Linked DNA regions of Homo sapiens. The protein of the gene in region 2 interacts with the protein of the main gene of each other region in a biochemical or structural test. Each region holds a gene or a part of one and is shown on either strand. Other genes may lie near its edges.

Region 1 (3,654 bases), on a different chromosome or scaffold from region 2:
AGGAGATCCATGTATTTTTGGCTCTTTTGCTTAGTTTTATTAATATTTTGGATGTTTCTACTATGGACAATGCTCTAACACAATTTTCCAGGTTAATTACCACATTAAGTTAAATGCAGTATCCATAATAGTAATGTCACTCATTAATGATTGTGTCATTTTGAATAGGCCTTAATTAGTAATTACAGATTTTTGTGGTGGTTTATCGTGTTTTGTAATATGTTAGAGTACACTGGATTTGCTGAACTCTGGTAATTTAGAACTCTGAGCCATACAAAGAGAAGTTCTGTACTCTAAAAAGTATTTAATCTAACTGTATGCATAACTCCAATATTTTGCCTGAACAGATTTAGTCATTGTGGAAGTCCCGATTTCTGTCCTGTGGGCATGATTATTTGCATTACAAAAGGCTTCACCAAAATTTTTCATTGGGGAATAGGTGCATTTCAATATGATTTTGTATTCATAATGTTCAAGGAAAGGAAATGCTTTATTGAATCTAATTGATTTTTGCTTCTTGTTTTTTTTTTTCCCCTATTATTCTTCAGGTTTTTTTGCCCACCTCCTTGTGTATATCTTATGGGCAGTGGATGGAAGAAAAAAAAAGAACAAATGGAACGCGATGGTTGTTCTGAACAAGAGTCTCAACCGTGTGCATTTATTGGGATAGGAAATAGTGACCAAGAAATGCAGCAGCTAAACTTGGAAGGAAAGGTAAATCAAGACTGCTAGTTCACCAGAAAGGGGCACCATGGTACCAGAATGTAGTTTTCATATTCATTTTTGTGGTGGAGATTTTTTTCTTTAATAACTATTGGTAACAATTTCTTGAATATATAAACTAGGACCAAAAAACATGCCTCTCATAGCTTTGGTCTAGTCACTCATGAAGCTTACGCTGCTGACATTGGAAGGTGGCATGCAGTAAGCTTCCCCAGCTTGCAAGCAGTTTTAGCAGACTATAAATCAGATTTCTATTGGAAGCCAGTAATAAATTTAGGAGGCTGATTGCTCATCTTCTGTTTGACAGAGGTTTATCAACAAAAATACATTGTTCAGTAATGTTTTACTCTGCTATTTTAATCTTAGTTTTATACTAGACACGATGATATATACATTGTGGAAAGCATTTATCTGGGTTATAACGATCATAAACGTTTACTTGACATCAGAGTGAAGCAGAGTGATACTGTAGACAAGAACAGCCACAGTTGGCTTTACTCAAATTTTAGTGCGTGGCAGGGGTTCTTCAATTAATTTTCTAGAGAAAACAATCTATCAGCTAGTTTTACTGATTATATTGTATGAATTTAGAAAGCAGTCAATCTAGATCTTTTTTTTTCTTCCCCCGGGACAGGGTTTTTACTCTGTCACCCATGCAGAAATGCAATAGTGCAATCTTGGCTGACTGCAACCTCCACCTCACAAGTAGCGGGACCATAGGTGTGTGTCACTATGTCCAGCTAACTTTTTTGTATTTTTTTGTAGAGATGGGGTTTCGCCATGTTACCTAGGCTGGTCTTGAACTCCTGAGCTCAAGCAATCCATCCACCTCAGCCTCCCAAAGTGCTGGGATTACGGGTGTGTGCCACCGTGTCCAGCCAATCTATACTTTTAGTATTGAAAGATAGTTTTTTATTCACTTAGAATTTAGCTATGGTTTTATTTTTCCTTGCTACTGTACTTTGGAAAATGGTTAGTTCTGATCTCAATGACTAAACATCTTCTAAAATAGCGCATAAACAGCTGTTTCATTATTTGATACATCCTTGTTGAATATTTTAGTGTTTGCTATGTTGTAGTTGGCACTAGGTATATGGGTTGGGAGTAGTGTTGGTGGAGGTGAGCTAGGGGATTTGTACTCTCAAATTGAATTTTAGTGATTTTACAGATAGTACTACAGGTCTTAATGTCAACCTCCTTCAAATTTAGCTGTTTGTATGTCATTTATATCTTTATAGTTTTTGTAAGTAAGATTTGTTGACTATGTATTTTAAATTAGATTTGGGATAATACTTATTACAATAAAGATTGTTTCATCTTAAACCACTAAAACTATTTCTAAATTATGATCCCTGAGCTAAAGTAACGAATATATTTAAGTGGTGGGTTGATCTAATAGATCTTAAGTCTTGTCTCATCTGTTTTCTTGTTACCTAGGAAGTCTCAGAGTTATATGTCTCCAGGCTTCACATGTAGACATTCAGTACTATGAATGAGTGGATCAGATAGGTAGTGAGAAGCCAGGGATTCTAGCTACCTGTGTGTATAACTGTTTAATCCTACTTCATTGCTCATTTTAACCAGTTCCAGCTTCCAGTAATTTTAAATGAGGTGATACCAAATAAACCAACCAGTAGTATCACTGCTTGCCTTTCGCAGCATTGTGGCTTAGTAGTGCCACATCCTAATTTTGTACCTTTAGGGGCTGCCTCAACATGGAGATCTTTCTGCTGTTTTTCATTATATCTTTCTTCAACTTCCACTAGTATACCCTTTCCCCAAGGCCTAGAAACTGGCAGAAGAGGAATAGAATACCTGAGAGCTTGAGCATTTAACTAGTATTTAAAATACCTAGTAATAGGTTAGTACAATGTCTGTAAGCCAAAATTATATGTTAATATTTAATTTTAAGGAAAAATTCTATTAGGGAAGTTTATGTAAAGCAAGACTGGTGAGAGTTAGTAGAAGGCATCCCAGGCAGAAAAAAAAACAATATAATCATGTGCTTAGAGCATAAAGGTATAAGAACATGGTTTTGACCAAGGTAGGCAAAGATGTCCTGAGCAGCGGATTCTGAGCTTCAGTGAGAGGCACTTTGCTCTTGTCTGCCTCACTTAAACTCCATTCGTGTAAGGAAATAGTCTGTTCATTGAGTGGTACAATTAGTTATTGAGAAATATGGGATATTCATTTTGCAATTTTTGGTGTTTATACTTATTTTAAATATTCACTGCAACAAAATTCTAGTATATCTAGCCCTTTAAATTTATGGTCATGACATTTGGCTGTATGTAGGTAATATGTTGGATCTTAGATTTTGTGTAATGTTTTTAATTTGTTAAAAAAATTTACATTTTTTATAGTCACAGCTAGGTAAGCTACGCAACAAGGATGACTTAGTTAACACTCTTGTGTTTTTCTTATTTTTAAACATCATATACTCTTGGTAACATTTTGTTTCTATAATTTAAACATTTCTGCAGTATCACTTTGCAGCATTAGATTTGGTATTTCTTCTTTCTTTCAGGGAAATGTCTTTTATTGCCTAAAGATCTTGTTTTCAAAGAGTATTTCTAGAGAGATGATTATATGCCATTTTCTCTTCTAGAATTCCGTTAGCTAATTTAACCTTTTGCAATAGCAAGGCAAATGTAATTTTAGTTTTATTTGCTTATTTTCTATGAGTCAGTGACTTTTTCCTTCTTTTCTTAATGGAATTTGAGTAGTTTGTGGTCAGTGGCCTTATAGTTTTTTAAAACTAATAGTTCCCATAAAATTATCTTGATTATGATTTTTGTGGATTCAAACTACTCATTGTAATTAGGGATATATTTCCTTTCTTTCCAAGGAGATATATGTGTGTTTGTTTTTTCCGAACAAAATGCAGTTCTTTTTGTGTAGGTCTTATGATCCAACCTTCTTGGTTCTTTT
Region 2 (3,654 bases):
ACTGATAACTGGAGGCACCACTGGTATAGTTTTTTTTTTTTTTTTTTTTTTTTTTTTTTTTTGAGACAGAGTCTCACTCTGTCGCCCAGGCTGGAGTGCAGTGGCGCAATCTCGGCTCACTGCAAGCTCTGCCTCCCAGGTTCACGCCATTCTCCTGCCTCAGCCTCCTGAGTAGCTGGGACTATAGGCGCCCGCCACCACACCCGGCTAATTTTTTTGTATTTTTAGTAGAGACGGCGTTTCACCGTGTTAGCCAGGATGGTCTTGATCTCCTGACCTCGTGATCCGTCTGCCTTGGCCTCCCAAAGTGCTGGGATTACAGGCGTGAGCCACCGTGCCCGGCCACCAGTGGTATAGTATTAATGGAATCAGTGCATTGGCTTACGTATCTGATTACAGCTCAGTAAGTGTGTGACCCTCACTGAGCCTCAGTCTCCTCATCTGAAAAATGGGAATGACCTTCATTTCACAAGGCTTGAGCTAAAAACATGTAAAGTGTATTGTAAATTCCTGAATGCTCTACTCATGTAAGACTAAAGTAGGCCGGGCGTGGTGGCTCACACCTGTAATTGCAGCACTTTGGGAGGCCGAGGAGGGCAGATCATGAGGTCAAGAGATCGAGACCATCCTGGCTAATATGGTAAAACCCTGTCTCTACTAAAAATACAAAAATTAGCTGGGCGTGGTGGCGCACATCTGTAGTCCCAGCTACTCAGGAGGCGGAGGCAGGAGAATTGCTTGAACCTGGGAGGTGGAGGTTGCAGTGAGCTGAGATCGCGCCACTGCATTCCAGCCAGTCTGGCGAAAGAGCAAGACTCTGTCTCAAAAAAAAAAAAAAAAAAAAAAAAAGACTAAAGTACATGGTTTCTTCAAAGCTTCTCTCTCTTTCTCCCACCTTAGATGATTTTTCCTTTGCAATGTCCTGTGTCCATTCCGCCCCACTCCTCCTGGGGCCACCTGGACCAGGTCTTCATCATCTCATATCTATATGTTTGCTGTGTCTCCTGGCTGGCCACTCTTCTGTAATTTCTCCTCCTCTGAGCTCTCTGGGCAGCTGAATCTTCTCACTAGTGAAGTCGCCTGGTTGGATGCTGATGAGACTGACCAGCTGAATCCAGTTGAAAACTTCACACTTGGCAGTGATCTGGTTCTAAAGACACAATTTTCCATAGTTTCCTAACACCATCCTGCATGCCACCTGCCTTATTTCCCCACATCACATCGTCCCACTTAGCGGGACTGCACTGCTGATCCAAATTTTACATCCTTTAGGGCCCACTCAGGTCATATGTCCTCAGGGAAGTCTTTCTGGAAGAACCTTAAACCAGAGGTTCTCAACAGGGGGCAGTTTTGCTCCCTGTGGAACGTTTGCCAATGTCTGGACACATTTCATTCGTCACAAACGGAGAGGGGGATGCTACAGGGATCTGGCGGATAGAGGCCAGGGATGCTGCTGAACATCTGCAATGCATAGGACAGCCCACCCCCACCCCCACACCCCCAGTAAATAATGATCCAGCCCAAGTGTCACTGGTGCTGACGTTGAGTAACCCTATCTTAAGCTGAACTCATCATCTCTCCATTCCAGCCTTGGTGGATTCTGTCTCCTCTGAACCATTCCCATCTCACTTTAGCCTACCTAGATCACAAAGCTTGGCACTCATTATAGACTCCCCTATTTATTACTCCTTCAAGATGTGCAAGAATCTTTTCTCTGCACTTTTAAGTTCTGTAAGAAGAGTCTGTGTCGTTCCTATAATAACCAGCATAGGACGTTGCACGTGTTGTGTGCTCAGTGAACCTGGATTTGTTGATTGTTGACTGACTCACTCTAGAGTTGGAAATCTTATGCTTGGGGAAACTTAATATCTCTTTCTTTCTCTGTGTGTGTGCATTTGTGCACGTGTCTGTGCATAGCTGTGAGACCAAAGACCTGGTTGTGCAACAGGCAGGCACAAACAAGACTGATGTTGTCTGTGGTGAGTCCTGGACAATGGGCCCTGGAGAAAGCCTAGGAAGGTGGGAACTGAAGGGGGAGATGAGGCACACAGGAACACTGGATGGGAAAAAGGGGAGGGGAGGCAGTTTGGGGGTGTGGTATCACAGCTCTGCCACTTATCTTGGGAGTCTGGGCAAATCACTTCCCCTCTCTTAGCCTCAGTTTCTTCATCTGTAAAATGGGATGATAACAGCACTTCCTTAGTAGGTTTTGATTTTAGAGTGAGAAGGTTGGCCTACAGTAAAGATCAGATAATGTAAATCAGTGAAAAAGGTCAGGGGTAAGAAAATTACATTCTCTTTACCTAACGCTAAATGACCAGTTAATGGGTGCAGCACACCAACATGGTACATGTATACATATGTAACAAACCTGCACATTATGCACATGTACCCTAAAGCTTAAAGTATAATAATAATAAAATTTAAAAAAACGAAAAATACATTCTCTTTGCTTTTTCTCAAAATGTACTTTCCTCTTTGTAGGGCTGGGACTAGAATGAGGTGAGCAAGGCACTTGCCCTCGGGCGCAATATTTAAGAAGGTGCCATAAAAGTGTAGTAATCAAGGTAAATTCATTTTGATGCAATATTTTTAAAAATAAAAATTAATGCAAAGAAATCCATGATGAGCAAGATAGCAACATTTTAAATAAAGAACAGGATCCGACCCTGTGTTTGCATGACCCTGCCTCACTCACCTCACCCTAATCCTGGCCCTGGTTCCAGTAAAAGGAATAGGCAGCCAGCCTGCAGGCCGTAGTTTGCTGACTTGGTGTCCGCCTGATGATTTTCAAAATATGGCATTAAAAGAATGTTTACCTTGATGACTGAGTGTTTTGGACATCCTTTTCAATTTTGTCCTGAAACAATTTCATCCCTTGCCTCACGCTAGTCTCCGCCCTGCCTTTTGGTCTTTCTTTTATTTTCCCACTTTGAAAAAAAAATTCGGCATGAGAAATACTTTACCTTTCCCCTCCACTCTTCTATACCAAAAGCAACATGCAGACATGAATCATGCTAGACCTCGGCATTGGGCAGAGAGCAGGGAGTGGCGGGGAGCATGGTGAGCAGGTGGTGACAGCCACTGCCACCACTCGCTTCTAGATGGTTCCCAGGTGGGGAGGCTGCCAACTGGAACCCAGTCTTCCCAGTTTGTAAGAGAAATCAGATGTCTAGGTTTGAATATGTGATCTCCCAGTTTAAAAATGTCGGCAAATATTTCCAAACGTTAAGAAAATGTTCTGGCTCCTTTAAAGACATCTGCCAGCCACATTTCCCCAAGGACCGCGGTTTGAACCTTCTGATGTAGATGAGCTCTGACATTGGAAGATTCTGGAGTCTGACAAGTCACAGCAGGTTGAGGGTAGGGAGAAACTGCAGGTGAGGGGTGCATGCTGAAGTCCTGATTTCTCCAGGTCCCCAGGATCGGCTGAGAGCCCTGGTGGTGATCCCCATCATCTTCGGGATCCTGTTTGCCATCCTCTTGGTGCTGGTCTTTATCAGTGAGTCCTCAGGTGGGGAGGTGTTGGGGGAGGGAGGGGAGACCACCTGTTTCTTATCTGGCCTCTCCAACTCCCCATCCTTTTTTTTTTTTTTTTTTTTTTTAGAAAAGGTGGCCAAGAAGCCAACCAATAAGGTAGGTCACCCCTGAGAA
Region 3 (3,654 bases), on a different chromosome or scaffold from region 2:
AAGGGGTTGGGAAAGGCTGGTGGCTTTCTTTTCTAGGGCAAAGTGGAAGGAGTAGCAGTTATTCAAGGTGGTTTCCTTTCCCCATCCTGAAACTGCTTTAGATTTGAGTTGGTCTCTCACCACAAGTGTGAACTCTGGCAGAACATTTACCCAGAAACAGAATAGGCTCAGCAGTTGGGGAAACCCAGCAGAGGGGCCTTGCCTGCCTCCCAAATTACTCACACTTGTCTCAACCACCTACAAAAAAGTAGACCTTACTAAAGAATGACTAATCATCCTGGGGTCAAGATGGCGAAAATCCTACCTTTAAGCCTTTGATTCTCTTCAAACGTGGAATTCCAATGTATATATACATAACTGATCAAAGCTCAGATGTTCTGGTTGAACAGGCAGTTAGAGGTGGAACATGATTTGGCTCATACACTGTCAGCCTCAGTGCAGCTCCAGAGGCACCACTACTTACCCTTGATTACTACTTTCTTTATCCAGGATTGGTTGGCTGTCATTTGGCAGGATAATGGCTGCCAAAGACAACAGACTTAAGATATTGTATCTATTGTCAACCTAAAGAAATGGAGGCAAAATTAATATGGGGAATTTATTTGGGTAAAGGTTGACGACAGCTGCCTTGGACACACTTCCAGGTTGCCTTGGGGGGTTGCTCCATTCGGCCTTTGTTGCAACCAGGTTTTTGTTTGTTTGTTTGTTTGTTTTTGTTTTTTGAGATGGAGTCTCTCTCTGTCACCCAGGCTGGAGTGCAGTGGCGCGATCTTGTCTCACTGCAAGCTCCGCTTCCTGGGTTCACTCCATTCTTCTGCCTCAGCCTCCCAAGTAGCTGGGACTACAAATGCCCGCCACCACGACCGGCTAATTTTTTTGTATTTTTTAGTAGAGACAGGGTTTCACCGTGTTAGCCAGGATGGTCTCGATCTCCTGACCTTGTGATACGCTCGCCTCGGCCTCCCAGAGTGCTGGGATTACAAGTGTGAGCCACCGTGCCTGGCCGCAACCAGGTTTTTAAAGGCAAAAGAGAGCAAAGAATGGGCTGATACTAAGTTATTTGATAGGAATTCTCACTGGTTTACAGAAATAACATTGATTAGTGATTATACATTGTTGAACTATAGGGCATGAGTTTTGGTATCTAACGTATGGCATTTTATGGCTACTTGGCATCACATAGTAGGTAGCTTCAAGAGGGTCATTTAGTTCACGGGAGAGTGAGGTGTGACTGCTGTCACACACTTACATTTCAGTGCCTCTCTGGGCCTGATAATTAAAATGGGTTTGCACTCCTCACATTAAAAGTTTTTATTTCTCACTATGAAATAAGGAGGGAAGTTCATTTTAAAAGGAGTGGCAGAATAAGGAGAATTGGAGAACCAGTACAGAAGATTCAAAACCCAGATAGTAGAAGTCCCAGAAAGGAATACAAAAGGAAAGAAATTGCCCCAAAAAATTTTCAAGAAAATTTCCAAGAACTGAAGGAGGAATTTCCAGATTGAAAGGGCCCACCAAACACCTATTGCTATGATATAGTCCATGGCCAAGTATGGTCCTGAAATTTCAGAATCCTAGGGACAAAAAGAAAAAAAATCCTAATTGTTTTCAAAGAGAAAAAAATCGGTTTAAGGCCAGGCACAGTGGCTTATGCCTATAATCCAAGCACTTTGGGAGGCCGAGGCAGGCAGATCACCTGAGGCTGGGAGTTCAAGACCATCCTGGCTAACATGGTGAAACCCCGTCTCTACTAAAAATACAAAAATTAGCTGGGTGTGGTGGCGTGCGCCTGTAATCCCAGCTACTGGGGAGGCTGAGGCACAAGAATCGCTTGAATCCCGGAGGTGGAGGTTGCAATGAGCTGAGATCACACCATTGCACTCCAGCCTCGAGCAACAGAGTGAGAATTGTACAAGATCAGGAATCAAAATGGATCTGATCCTCAAAAAAAATAAACAGAAGCTAGAAGATAGCATAGCAAAGCTTTCAGAATTCTGAGGAAAAATTACTTCCAACCTAGAACTCTTAATCTAGCCAAAGGATCCGTTAAGTCAGAGGGTAAAGATATTTTTAGTTATGCAAAGCCTCAAAAAATTTACTTCCCAAACACTTTCTTAGGAAGCTGCTACAAGATTTGCGTCACCACGTGGGGATATAAAACAAGATTCAGGAGACTGAAAATGAGGGATTCAATTAAAGAAAGAGATGGACAAAGGGTATCCCCAAATTCAAGGTAAAGAAGGTCCCAAGATGAAGGCTTTCCATCAGGCATAGAGAGCAACTAGTCTAGATTGGAGCAAGCCAGAAAGCTTACAGAGTGATTCTTCTAAAGAGATAGAATACCTGACGTGTCTGAATATATTGAGGAGTTGTATTAGTGATAATAGGAAACAAAGCAAACAAGAATTTTCAGGGAAAAAAGTTTTCAGAAAAGGAAAAGTATCCATGGTATTGTTCAACAGTGAATAGCATTACATAGTAATAAGAAAGTAAAAGCTGAATGCTAATCTAATGAAAAATTAGATATAACTGTATTGGGGAAATGGGGGAGAATAGGAGGTAGGGGATATTTAAAGAGAGCTGAATCCTAATTTTCCATAATGAAGAGACAAAAACTGAAAAATCAGTAGTGGCAGTATTACATGTTATTTAGGGATACAGAGATAAATACAAAAAAGAATTAGTCAAAATTTGTTGCGAAGGTGAAGCAGGAAATAGGAAGGGGAAAGCAGAGGACTACTGTTTTTCTTATTTTGTAGAACTACACAACTCATTAAGATATAGGTACGTATAGCTCTGATTAAAATAAAAAATTAGAGGGGAGAGAGCTAGAGATTGTGCTTTAGCAACAGAGACCTAGGTTTATCTGGTTCTTCCATTTTCTAATTCTGTGCCTTATGCAACTTATTTACCCTTTTGAAGCTCAGTTTTGAAGTTCAGTTTCCTCCTCTGTAAAGGGAAGACAATATATGCTTCTGCAGAGGGAAGATTAAAAATGAGGTAGTTTATGTAAAGCACCTGCAAATAGATCTTTGTTCCGACCCTAACCCCAGTGCTTCCCATGATCAAATAGGGAACCACCTTCTTCATTGTTGGGATGATTGCCATCCAAACAGAAGACTGAGATTGTCCTTCTTATCCATGACTCTTTGTGCCTCTTTGAATTAAAGGCATGTCTTTGAGATCTATCTTGTCTCTCAACTATCTGTAGATAGTTTGAGAATTGAAATAGAATTAAGATGATTAGAGTATTGATAGGAGGAACATCAAGTTAAAAGTGTCATTGCTACTTAGTGGGAGATGGGCTATGGTCAGTCAAATTTCTCAACAAGAACTTCAACAAATGCCATTAATAGAGAAAACATTTGTTTTCTCTATTAATTAAGTTGATGAGTTGTGGAAGTTTTATGGAAGCAAGATGAACAAAGTGCTGTTGCTCTGGGCCATCTGCCAAAGTATCAAAATACCTTTATTTATTTATTTGAGAAAGTCTTCTACCTTAGCAACTGCTATTTTTGTTCCGAAATTCTATATACTTCTTGTAGAATAATTAAAAAGCAGATCACTATGGGAAAAAAGGCAACTTTATGAAAGCCTGTTTCCCTGCGTTGGTGCATATTTGTATAGCATTTTATAGTGCTTTCCAAGCTATGA

The links.
Region 1: the proteins of CD40 (region 2) and RBPJ form a complex in vitro, tested with the Homo sapiens proteins (one study listed by BioGRID).
Region 3: the proteins of CD40 (region 2) and TANK interact in a test that uses a peptide from one of them, tested with the Homo sapiens proteins (one study listed by BioGRID).

Annotation. Positions count from the first base shown.
Region 1 is NC_000004.12:26,414,927-26,418,580, forward strand, and holds part of RBPJ (recombining binding protein suppressor of hairless), read left to right. Parts: intron 1-548; coding exon 549-714; intron 715-3,654. UniProt on the Homo sapiens protein: Transcriptional regulator that plays a central role in Notch signaling, a signaling pathway involved in cell-cell communication that regulates a broad spectrum of cell-fate determinations.
Region 2 is NC_000020.11:46,124,723-46,128,376, forward strand, and holds part of CD40 (tumor necrosis factor receptor superfamily member 5 isoform 1 precursor), read left to right. Parts: intron 1-1,917; coding exon 1,918-1,979; coding exon of another isoform or gene 1,980-2,019; exon of another isoform or gene 2,020-2,439; intron 2,440-3,256; exon of another isoform or gene 3,257-3,415; coding exon 3,416-3,502; coding exon of another isoform or gene 3,503-3,514; intron 3,515-3,607; coding exon 3,608-3,636; intron 3,637-3,654.
Region 3 is NC_000002.12:161,166,919-161,170,572, forward strand, and holds part of TANK (TRAF family member-associated NF-kappa-B activator), read left to right. Parts: intron 1-3,654.